Linked DNA regions of Homo sapiens. The protein of the gene in region 3 purifies or fractionates together with the protein of the main gene of each other region. This does not show direct contact. Each region holds a gene or a part of one and is shown on either strand. Other genes may lie near its edges.

What was found.
Region 1: the proteins of MMUT (region 3) and CSTF3 fractionate together in Homo sapiens (co-fractionation; one large-scale study listed by BioGRID). This does not show direct contact.
Region 2: the proteins of MMUT (region 3) and DHTKD1 fractionate together in Homo sapiens (co-fractionation; one large-scale study listed by BioGRID). This does not show direct contact.

Annotation. Positions count from the first base shown.
Region 1 is NC_000011.10:33,105,945-33,109,603, forward strand, and holds part of CSTF3 (cleavage stimulation factor subunit 3), read right to left. Parts: intron 2,475-3,659; coding exon 2,442-2,474; intron 2,057-2,441; coding exon 1,959-2,056; intron 121-1,958; coding exon 54-120; intron 1-53. UniProt on the Homo sapiens protein: One of the multiple factors required for polyadenylation and 3'-end cleavage of mammalian pre-mRNAs.
Region 2 is NC_000010.11:12,120,795-12,123,721, reverse strand, and holds the end of DHTKD1 (2-oxoadipate dehydrogenase complex component E1), read right to left. Parts: coding exon 2,834-2,927; 3' UTR 501-2,833; downstream 1-500. UniProt on the Homo sapiens protein: 2-oxoadipate dehydrogenase (E1a) component of the 2-oxoadipate dehydrogenase complex (OADHC). Participates in the first step, rate limiting for the overall conversion of 2-oxoadipate (alpha-ketoadipate) to glutaryl-CoA and CO(2) catalyzed by the whole OADHC.
Region 3 is NC_000006.12:49,435,754-49,439,412, reverse strand, and holds part of MMUT (methylmalonyl-CoA mutase, mitochondrial precursor), read left to right. Parts: intron 1-3,659. UniProt on the Homo sapiens protein: Catalyzes the reversible isomerization of methylmalonyl-CoA (MMCoA) (generated from branched-chain amino acid metabolism and degradation of dietary odd chain fatty acids and cholesterol) to succinyl-CoA (3-carboxypropionyl-CoA), a key intermediate of the tricarboxylic acid cycle.

The DNA.
Region 1 (3,659 bases), on a different chromosome or scaffold from region 3:
CTTTCTTGGTATTCTTACATTTAAGTGCATACATTAAAAAGTTTTAACTCTACCTGATAGGACATAATTTCCATTCCAATTTTATCCAGTGCAAAGTCATATGCTTGAGCCATTTTTTCTCTGAAATGAACATGAAAGACGTGGTTTTTAAATTTTTTTGTTATTAAAATTTATCTACAATTAGGCCAGACATGGTGGCTCATGCCTGTAATCCCACTGCTTTGGGAGGCCGAGGCAGAAGGATCACTTGAGACCAGGAATTCAAGACCTGCCTGTGCAACATAGCAAAACCCAGTCTCTAAAAAAATAAAAATTAAAAAAATTAGCTGGGCATGGTGGCGTGCACCTGTAATCCTAGCTACTCGGAAGGCTGAGGTGGGAGGAGTGCTTAAGCCCAGGATTTCAAGGTTACAGTGAGTTATGAATGCACCATTACACTTCAGCCTGGGTGACAGAGCAAGACCCTGTCTCTAAAAAAAATTAAAAATAAATTATTATTTGAAGATAGACGTGGTGGTTCATTCCTGGAATCCCAATGCTTTGGGAGGCTGAGGCAGGAGGATCATCTGAGGCCAGGAGTCGGAGACAAGCCTGGGCAGCACAGTGAGACCTCGTCTCTATAAATAAATAAATAATAAATGTATATATAACTAAAATGTAGCTTCTGATCACAGGATCAGAACAACACTTGAACATTCTCTATAAACATAAATTAAAGACATCTTTTAAGTATATAAAGTCGTTCTTTGATGTTAAGCTTGTCAAGATCATAAATTGTTTCCTTTATCTACTGCTTGTGAGCTTATCAAAAATAAGGCTCATGTCTTACTTATCTTTATATCATTTAAGTTGCATAATTCTATACATAGCAGATTCAAATGTGGAAATTTGTGGTTCTCTCATTAATGAGACATTAAGATCTTTAGCTCTAAAGTAAAATGTAGAAATCTGGAAAGTATAGTTTTATTAAAATGCAACTTATGTTAAAATGTAAAGGGTACATTAGGGAAAAAGAACTTCCACTTCAATATAAGACAATAAACAGACCAGGTGTGGTGGTTTATGCCTGTAATTCCAGCATTTTGGGAGGCTGAGGCAGGAGAATTGCTTGAGCTCAGTAGTTTGAGACCAGCCTAGGGACATTAACTTATGCTTGAGACCCTGCTACGTTTGGAGTCTCAAACATAAGGAGACCCCATCTCTACAAAAAAATAGAAAAAAAATCAGCCAGGTGTGGTGGCTCTTGCCTGTAGTCCCATCTACTTGGAAGGCTGAGGTGGGAGGATCACTTGAGCCCAAGAGGTTGAGGCTACAGTGAACCCGTGATTGTGCCACTGCACTCCAGCCTGTACGACAGAGCTGAAACTCTGTCTCAAAACACAAAAATCATAACAAAAAGTATAATCAGGAAAAGACAATAAAGACAGAATTTTAGTAACAGACATAACTTGCCTGTTAGTTACATAGAAAAATGGCACCTCAGAAGAAGGTCCATTATTTAGATTTGGCAAAGATGGGGAGGTGGGTATAATTCGGAGTGGGGATGGCAACTTCACAATACAATTGTCAGAGATCCCTTATATCACTACAAATGTCAGAGACCCCTTAGATCACTTAAGTAGCACATTGCATTGTGACCTCACAAAAGTGGTACTAGCACAAGTATGAAGATGGTTTTTGAAAAAATTTGACAAGTCTGTCAACAAAGTGGTTTGGTGTTGCAATTATACAGTGTTTCAGTATAGAAAGGGCTTGGGCGATTCAATTCTCCAGAGTAAGACTCATGCCAGTGACTTTCTCTGAAGCACTTTTTTCAAGGTTACTAATTCTTAGGAAATCCTGACTTTTCAAATCCTGATAATTCTTCCCACTTGGGGCTAACAGAAGGTGTGAGTTTATGTGGGATTAACTGTGTGCCTGGAGATGACTTGCATTCTTAAGATCCTGGTTTCACTTACTTGTAACTTGGTAGTTTACCCTTGGTTTCTCGGACATATGAAAGATAACACTTCCATAAATCAATGTGCAAAACCTTCATAAGGCATCTCTGAAATAGCTTTAAATACAAGAATATATTATCAGAATCCAGTTAAATAAATTTCACATGGACATAGATGAAATGGAACATTAAAAACACAAATTCAGCTCCCTTTATGAATTTATCTCTTATAAATAAAAAGCAAATAATTTCCCCATTTTCAGTTTAGATAATTAAAATGCTTCTCATGATTTGTCAGGGGAGTATAATTATTTTCTTTTCCTTTTCCAAAACTTTTATGATGAACATTTTCAAGCATATAAAAAAGCTGAATAAGTACAATTAACTTGTAAAAAATCACTATCTAGATTCAATTATTATTAACATTTTACTACATCTGTCTTATACATACTAGGTTTTAAGTTAAACTTCAATATAAAATTCAAAGTATTTGAGGACTCACCTTTTCAACCTTGTCATAATTTTTAGCTTTAATCTGAAGAGAAACAGAAAAATATAGAATTAATACTATTTTTTTAGAGCATCAGTCTGAATTTTTGACCAATTTTTAACCAACTTTGCAAATTCATCCCTATAGTTTCTTATTAATTTTTCTGTTACTTTCAAAAATAACAGAAGTGTGAAGCAAACATGGATAAAATGCATTGTAAATATACCTGTGTAAATTGAATCTATATGGATTTTCATACATTTACATATAAATTTTGTGAATTTAATAAAATTCTGTAAAAGTCATGAGATGAATACAGAAATATACACATACCCGATAGGTCTACCTGAATAGGATGTATCCACTGAAGAAAAACTTAAGGCTTTCCTTTCCCTGTATAGCTACCAGAACAATCTGAGCGGCAAAAAAGATATGCAAATTTGGACTACATATAAACATTCAGTCACACCATCAACCTAATATATTGCAGATATTGTGCTAGGCGTGGGGGCTACCACTGTGACAAGACAGGTCTGCCCCTGCCCTCATAGAGCTTACAATCTTATGGGGAAAATAAGACAACGAAGTGGAAGGTCATTGTAAGATATTATGGTTAAGTGCTAAAATGAAGAAAGTACTGGGTGCTACAGCATTTTGGAAGAGCAAAAGACTTAGACTTGGGGAATTGCAAAAGATTTCCGGGAAAAAGATAACTTTTTCTAGGAGAATCTGAGCTATTTGCTGAAGAAAGGGAAGAGTTATTCCAGGCAGGAGAAATAGCATGTGCAAAGACCAAGATTAAATACTATTAGATTTCTCTTTTCTTTGAGTATTTTCATCACAGAGTGGGTGGGGTTAGGTGCTCAACTGTGTTAATCAGCAAATCTGTTTCACCCAGATAGGTAAATAAATATTTTGGCTGATTAGAGAAGTTTTGGTCCTTTTATCTCAAGTAGTACAGTAATAGAGTAGTATTCCCAGTTTTATGGCTTAAACTACTGCAGGTGAGAATGCTGATGACAGTCTTTTTTGCTTTTGCTGATAACTTGTTCTCTTCTGGACTTTTTTATCTTGATCTTTAGAGTTCATAAATTTTAGCACACACTTAAACACAGCTCTTTGTACTTTGAAGCAGTTCAATCAAGGCTCTGGAGTCAGACCTCTTAGGTTCACAATCTGGCTATCTACTTAACCTCTTTTTCCCTCAGCTGATTAAGGGGGATAATAATA
Region 2 (2,927 bases), on a different chromosome or scaffold from region 3:
ATCTTTTGAACCCAGGAGGTGGAGGTTGCAGTGAGCTGAGATCGCACCACTCCAGCCTGGGCGACAAAGTGAGACTCTGTCTCAAAAGAAATTCGGAGAGATTTAAAGTAACCTTTTATTTTTTGAGACAGAGTCCCGCTCTGTCACCCAGGCTGGAGTACAGTGGTGCAATCTCGGCTCACTGCAACCTCCGCCTCCCGAGATCAAGTGATTCTCCTGCCTCAGCCTCCCAAGTAGCTGGGATTACAGGCATGCACCACCATGCCCTGCTAATTTTTATATTTTTAGTAAGAGACGGGGTTTAGCCATGTTGGCCAGGCTAGTCTCGAATGCCTGACCTCAGGTGATGCACCCATCTTGACCTCCCACAGTGCTGTGATTACAGGCGTGAGCTACCACGCCCAGCCTAAACTAACCTTTTACAAAGATCTAATCTTCCATCTCATTTTTGTGCTTAGACTTTTGAAATCTTTTAATTCAAGAAGTCCAGGAGTCCTGAGGAAAAAAAATGACAATGTGCTTTTATTTTTTTTCTTGTTAAAAAAAAACAACATTGGTAAATCGTTTTCATTAAATAGACCTTTGTGATTTTACTGATTTACATGAGTGGCACTAAATTACATGATTTATAAGGCTTGACACAGGAAGGATACACTGAGGTATATGGTAAGAAAAGGGATATGAATACTAGAGAAATGTTAAATTGATAACTAAGGCACACTTTCGGATGTGAATCATAAATCTACCACTGTGGCTAGAACAGCCTATATGTACATGGATTCTGAAAGACATGATCAGTTGCTGGTAAAAGTAGAGAGGGCCTGGGCTTCTGCCAGTCCCCTGGTACTTCCCACACCACTTCAGAGAAAAAGCATCATGACACAAGCACAGTAGATGGTAGAGGCCCCCAGCACTGAGTCAGGTGAAGCTACATGGTTCGCTGTTTAGTTACGTTTCCAGTACTTGGTTTAATTTCACAGTGAGGGAGTCGGTTGGTGATCTCTAAGAAATCCCCAAGCACCTGGTGTTGGGAAAGTCCCTCAAATAAAGAAGTGTTCTTTTCTTTTTTTTTCCTCTCTCTCTCTTTCTATTTATTTATTTTTTGAGATGGAGTCTTGCTCTGTCACCCAGACTGGAGTGCAGTGGCAGGATCTCAGCTCACTGCAACCTCCACCTCCTGGGTTCAAGCGATTCTCCTGCCTCAGCCTCCCGAATAGCTGGGATTACAGACACCCACCACCACGCCCAGCTAATTTTTGTATTTTTAGTAGAGACGGGGTTTCACTATGTTTTGTCAGGCTGGTCTCGAACTCCCAACCTCAGGTGATCCACCCATCTCAGCCTCCCAAAGTGCTGAGATTACAGGCGCAAGCCGCAGCGCCCAGCCAAGAAATGTTCTTTAAACATCACAAATAAACATACTGCATCAGGGACTTGTAGGGACAAGACTGATTAACCAGGGGCTGAAATCCCCATATCAGAAACCCCAGACAGTTAAAAATAGTAAGATATCACTGTAAGAACAATTTAAAGAAAAACAAGTTTACGGCAAAACAGACTACAAATCAATTTCATTATAACTAAAACTCCTTAATTTAAAAATACAGTACTAGAAGATCATCCACCCAGAGATTTGTATTTAGTAGGACCTAGATTTGCTAGTGTTGGGGAGACACTTCATACAGTGACTGGAAAGCAGCACCAGAGATTACATAAAATGAAAATATTAGTACTGCCACAGGACTTTCAAAAAGGAGGGGGAAAATTAATGAAAGTGACATGCATCAAACAAATCAAGAGGCAGTGTTGAGGTCATCTCCACGGAGCTGTAAACTCAGAAGTGTTTCCTGGTCATATATGGTCAATTAGGGTCAAGTCTGAAATCATCTAGATAATGACCTAGTTTTCCAGCTCACTCAGAGCTAAAATCCATAACACTATCATACTTTCCTTTTAATTTATGAGATGGAGTCTTGCTCTGTCGCCCAGGTTGGAGTACAGTGGCGCCATTTCGGCTCACTGCAACCTCTGCCTTCCAGGTTCAAGCAATTCTCCTGCCTCAGCCTCCGGAGTAGCTGAGACTACAAGCGCATGCCACCACACCCAACTAATTTTCATATTTTTAGTAGAAACGGCGTTTCACCACGTTGACCAGGCTGGTCTTGAACTCCTGACCTCAGGTGATCCAGCCGCCTAAGCCTCCCAAAGTGCTGGGATTACAGGCGTGAGCCACTGCACCCAGCCATCACACTTTCTTTTTTTGTTATTGTTTTTCTTTTGTTGTTTTCCTATTTCTACCATCACACCTTCAAGGATAAATTTGCTGGTTGCATTCACATATTCATAACCAGTTCCCCTGGTTATTCCACCTATTGCAGATTAAATCACGTATATCAATCCCAACATCTTAGAGGAATACAGTCTTTTCATGTTACCCAACAGAGGGGTTGAGAGAGTGGAGGAAGGAGGCCTCTTTTAATGGGTTTTTTTTTTTTTTTTTTTGAAACGCAGTCTTGCTCTGTCACCCAGGCTGGACAGCAATGGTGTGATCCTGGCTCACTGCAACCTCCGCCTCCCAGATTCAAGCGATTCTCTTGCCTCAGCCTCCCAGGAAGCTGGGATCACAGGTGCCCACCACCACACCCGGCTATTTTTTGTATTTTTAGTAGAGGCGGGGTTTCACCGTGTTGGCCAGGCTGGTCTCGAACTCCTGACCTCAGGTGATCCACCAGCCTTGGCCTCCCAAAGTGCTGGGATTACAGGCATGTGCCACCCCACCCGGCCTTAATGGCCATTTTCTTAAAGAGAAATAGTGTTTCTTCAAAAGTCATCATCAAGCGAAGGTCTTGGCGAGGATATCTTCATGCTGGTGCAAGTGAACTGTGCCAATTCCTACAGCGGGTACTGGCAAAGGGGGCCGGCCCACC
Region 3 (3,659 bases):
ATGATGTTTGGAGCCTTTGGCAGGCCCCCATAGGTGAGTCACAGCAGAGGCCTCTAAGATTTTGGAGGAAGGGCCTGCCATCTTCTGCAGATAACTACTCTCCTTTTGAGAGACAGCTCTTGGCCTGTTACTGGACTTTGGTGGAAACTGAATGTTTGACTATGGGTCATCAAGTCACCATGCGACCAGAACTGCCTATCATGAACTGGGTGCTTTCTGACCCATCTAACTATAAAGTGGGTCTTGCACAGCAGCATTCCATCATCAAATGGAAGTGGTATATATGTGGTCCAGCTTGAGCAGGTCCTGAAGGCACAAGTAAGTTACATGAGAAAGTAGCTCAAATGCCCATGGTCTCCACTCCTGCCACCCTGCCTTCTCTCCCTCAGCCTTTATATATATATATGTAAGGGGGAGTTTATTAAGTGTTAACTCACATGATCACAAGGTCCCACAATAGGTCTTCTGCAGGCTGAGGAGCAAGGAGAGCCAGTCCGAGTTCCCAAACTGAAGTATTTGGAGTCCAATGTTCAAGGGCAGGAAGCATCCACCACGGGAGAAAGATGTAGGCTTGGAGGTTAGATCAGTCTCTCTATTCACATTTTTTTGCCTGCTTATATTCTAGCCACGCCTGGCAGCTGATTAGATGGTGCCCACCCAGATTAAGGGTGGGTCTAGCCCTTTCCTAGCCCACTGATTCAAATGTTAATCTCCTTTGACAACACCCTCACAGACACACTCAGGGTCAATACTTTGTATCCTTCAACCAAGTTGACATGGAGTATTAACCATAACACATATAGTCCAATTAATTATGATAGAAATAAAAATAAAATATAATTAATCTTTCAGACTTTTAAAAGTGTCAGTTCAGAACTAAAACTGATTATGCCTCTGGAACTATGAAGATTACTTTCAAAGATCTTATTGTACTCTTTATTGAGATTTGACTAATATTTTGTGGGAAAGATAGCCCACATGGGATTGGTGAAAAGTGTTTTGAAAAAGAAATCAAATAGCAATATAAACTCAATTCATAAGTAAGGTTATTTTCGTTTATTTTTGTTGTCTTTTTTTAACTCTCTACTAATATGTTACTTAGTCACAGAATATTAGACTTAGACAGGAAAATAGTTTGCAGGAGATAAATTACACTGACATTTTCCATAGAATGATAATACAAAAAAATTTGACTAGAAAGTACATTGTAATAATTTTATATGAAAAGCCTTCTCTACTACATATGTATTGATCATCTACCAGATGCTAGGCTCTGAGTTGAGTAGGATACAATTTTGTCCTCGAGGTTACAATCTCCTAACAAAGAGAGATTTACTTACTTGTAATTACATCGTATGAAATTTACTATGTAAATTATTACTATTTCGTACATAGTATGAAAATTACTATAACTAAATTACTATAACTTTATACTATACTATAACTATAGTATAAAATTACTATAACTAAAATATGGACAAAGAGGGCACCTCACTTGTTACAAGAAACCCAGAAACTTATATTTGTTGATCCTTAAAACTTATGTTTGTTTCAGAAGCACAGTGCCATTCACTTTCTAGTAAAATCACTCTCTGAAGTGGATGGAGGAGAGCTGCAACTAGATTCAAGCAGTACGGTGAAGAAAAACAATGAGAAACAACGAAGACCTTAACTAGGGCAATGTCAGGGTCTCAAGAGAAACCAAATCTCAGCTAGGATTTTGAAGAAAATTTAATGGAGGGACTACTTACAGATATGTAGGCAGGATTGCTAGAACCACTAAGGAATAATGAGGCCTCCAGGAATTAAATTTTTAAGAATTTCAAAAGCCAGTTGTTTTTCATGGTGTGAAATGGTGTCTCATTTGTTTAAGTTCCTTGTAGATTCTAGAGAGTAGACCTTTTACTATTGCCTAAAACCAAAAGTGATAAGTACTAAAAACTTATCACTCCCTATATTTATATATTTTATTATCTGCTTTTTAGGTTATTTCCATCTATTTTTTCTATATGGTAGTGATACTGTATAATTGTGTGGCTATTGTGTGTCTTTTTTTCTGCTTTGCATTTAGTAATGTCATGTTAATAGGGTGAAATTGGCTATGGTTGGAATATTCACAACATAAAAATCAGCAAACACTAAAAATTAGGGATTGAGTTATTGTTTTCAGAAAATTTGATGAAAAATGTAAATAATCAGAACAAAGTTCTCTGAGGGAAATAATGTAACGATGAATATTAAATTTAAAAGTTTCTGATATCTGTAGGCATTACATTAGGAAGACCCCCCAACATTTGAGGAAACATTCTTTTAGTATTCAAAAAAATATTATTTTTTGTTTGTTTTTTTAACTTTTATTTTAAGTTCAGGGGTACATGTGTAGATTTGTTATATAGGTAAACTTGTGTTGTTAAGCCTAGTACCCATTAGTTGTTTTTCTGACCTCCCTCCTCCTGCTCCTCTACCCTCTGATAGGCCCCAGTGTGTGTTGTTTCCCTCTTTGCCTTGTTTGTGTCCATGTGTTCTCATAATTTAGCTCCCAATTATAAGAAAGAACATGTGGTATTTGGTTTTCTGTTCCTGTATTAGTTTGCTAAGGGTAATGGCTTCCAGCTTCATCCATGTTCCTGCAAAGGACACGATCTCATTCTTTTTTTCTGGCTGCATAGTATTCTTTAGTGTGTGTGTATCACATTTTCTTTATCCAGTCTATCACTGATGGGCATTTAGGTTGATTCCATGTCTTTGCTGTGGTGAATAGTGCTACAATGAACATACATGTGAATGTGTATTTTTTTTTTTTTTTTTGAAACAGAGTCTCGCTCTTTCATCCATGCTGGAGTGCAGTGGTATGATCTTGGCTCACTACAACCTCCACCTCCTGGGTTCAAGTGAGTCTTCTGCCTCAGCCATATGAGTATCTGGTACTACAGGCACGTGCCACCATACCTGGCCAATTTTTGTATTTTTAGTAGAGATGGGTTTCACCATGTTGGCCAGGCTGGTCTCGAACTCATGACCTCAAGTGATCCACCCGCCTCTGCCTCCCAAAGTGCTAGAATTACAGGCATGAACCACCACGCCCAGCTGCAAGCATGTTTTTATAATAGAAAGATTTCTGTTCATTTGGGTATATGTACGGTAATGGGATTGCTGGGTTGGGAGGTATTTCTGTTTTGAGGTCTGTGCGGAATCACCACACTGTCGTCTACAATGGTTGAACTAATTTACACTCTCACCAACACTGTATAAACGTTCCATTTTCTCCACAACCTTGCTAGCATCTGTTATTTTTTGACTTTTTAATAATAGCCATTCTGACTGGTGTGAAATGGTGTCTCATTGGGGTTTTTATTTGCATTTCTCTAACAATCAGTGATTTGGAGCTTTTTAAAAATACGATTGTTGGCCACATGTATGTCTTTTTTGGAAAGTGTCTGTTCATGTCTTTTGCCTGCTTTTTAATGTTTTTTTGTAAATTTGTTTAAGTTTTTTATAGATGCAGGTATTAGACCTTTGTCAGATTCACAGTTTGCAAAAGTTTTCTCCCATTCTGTAGGTTATCTGTTTACTGTGTTGATAGTATCCTTTTCAGTGCAGATGCTTTTTAGTTTAATTATATCTCATTTGTCAATTTTTGCTTTTGTTGTAATTGCTTT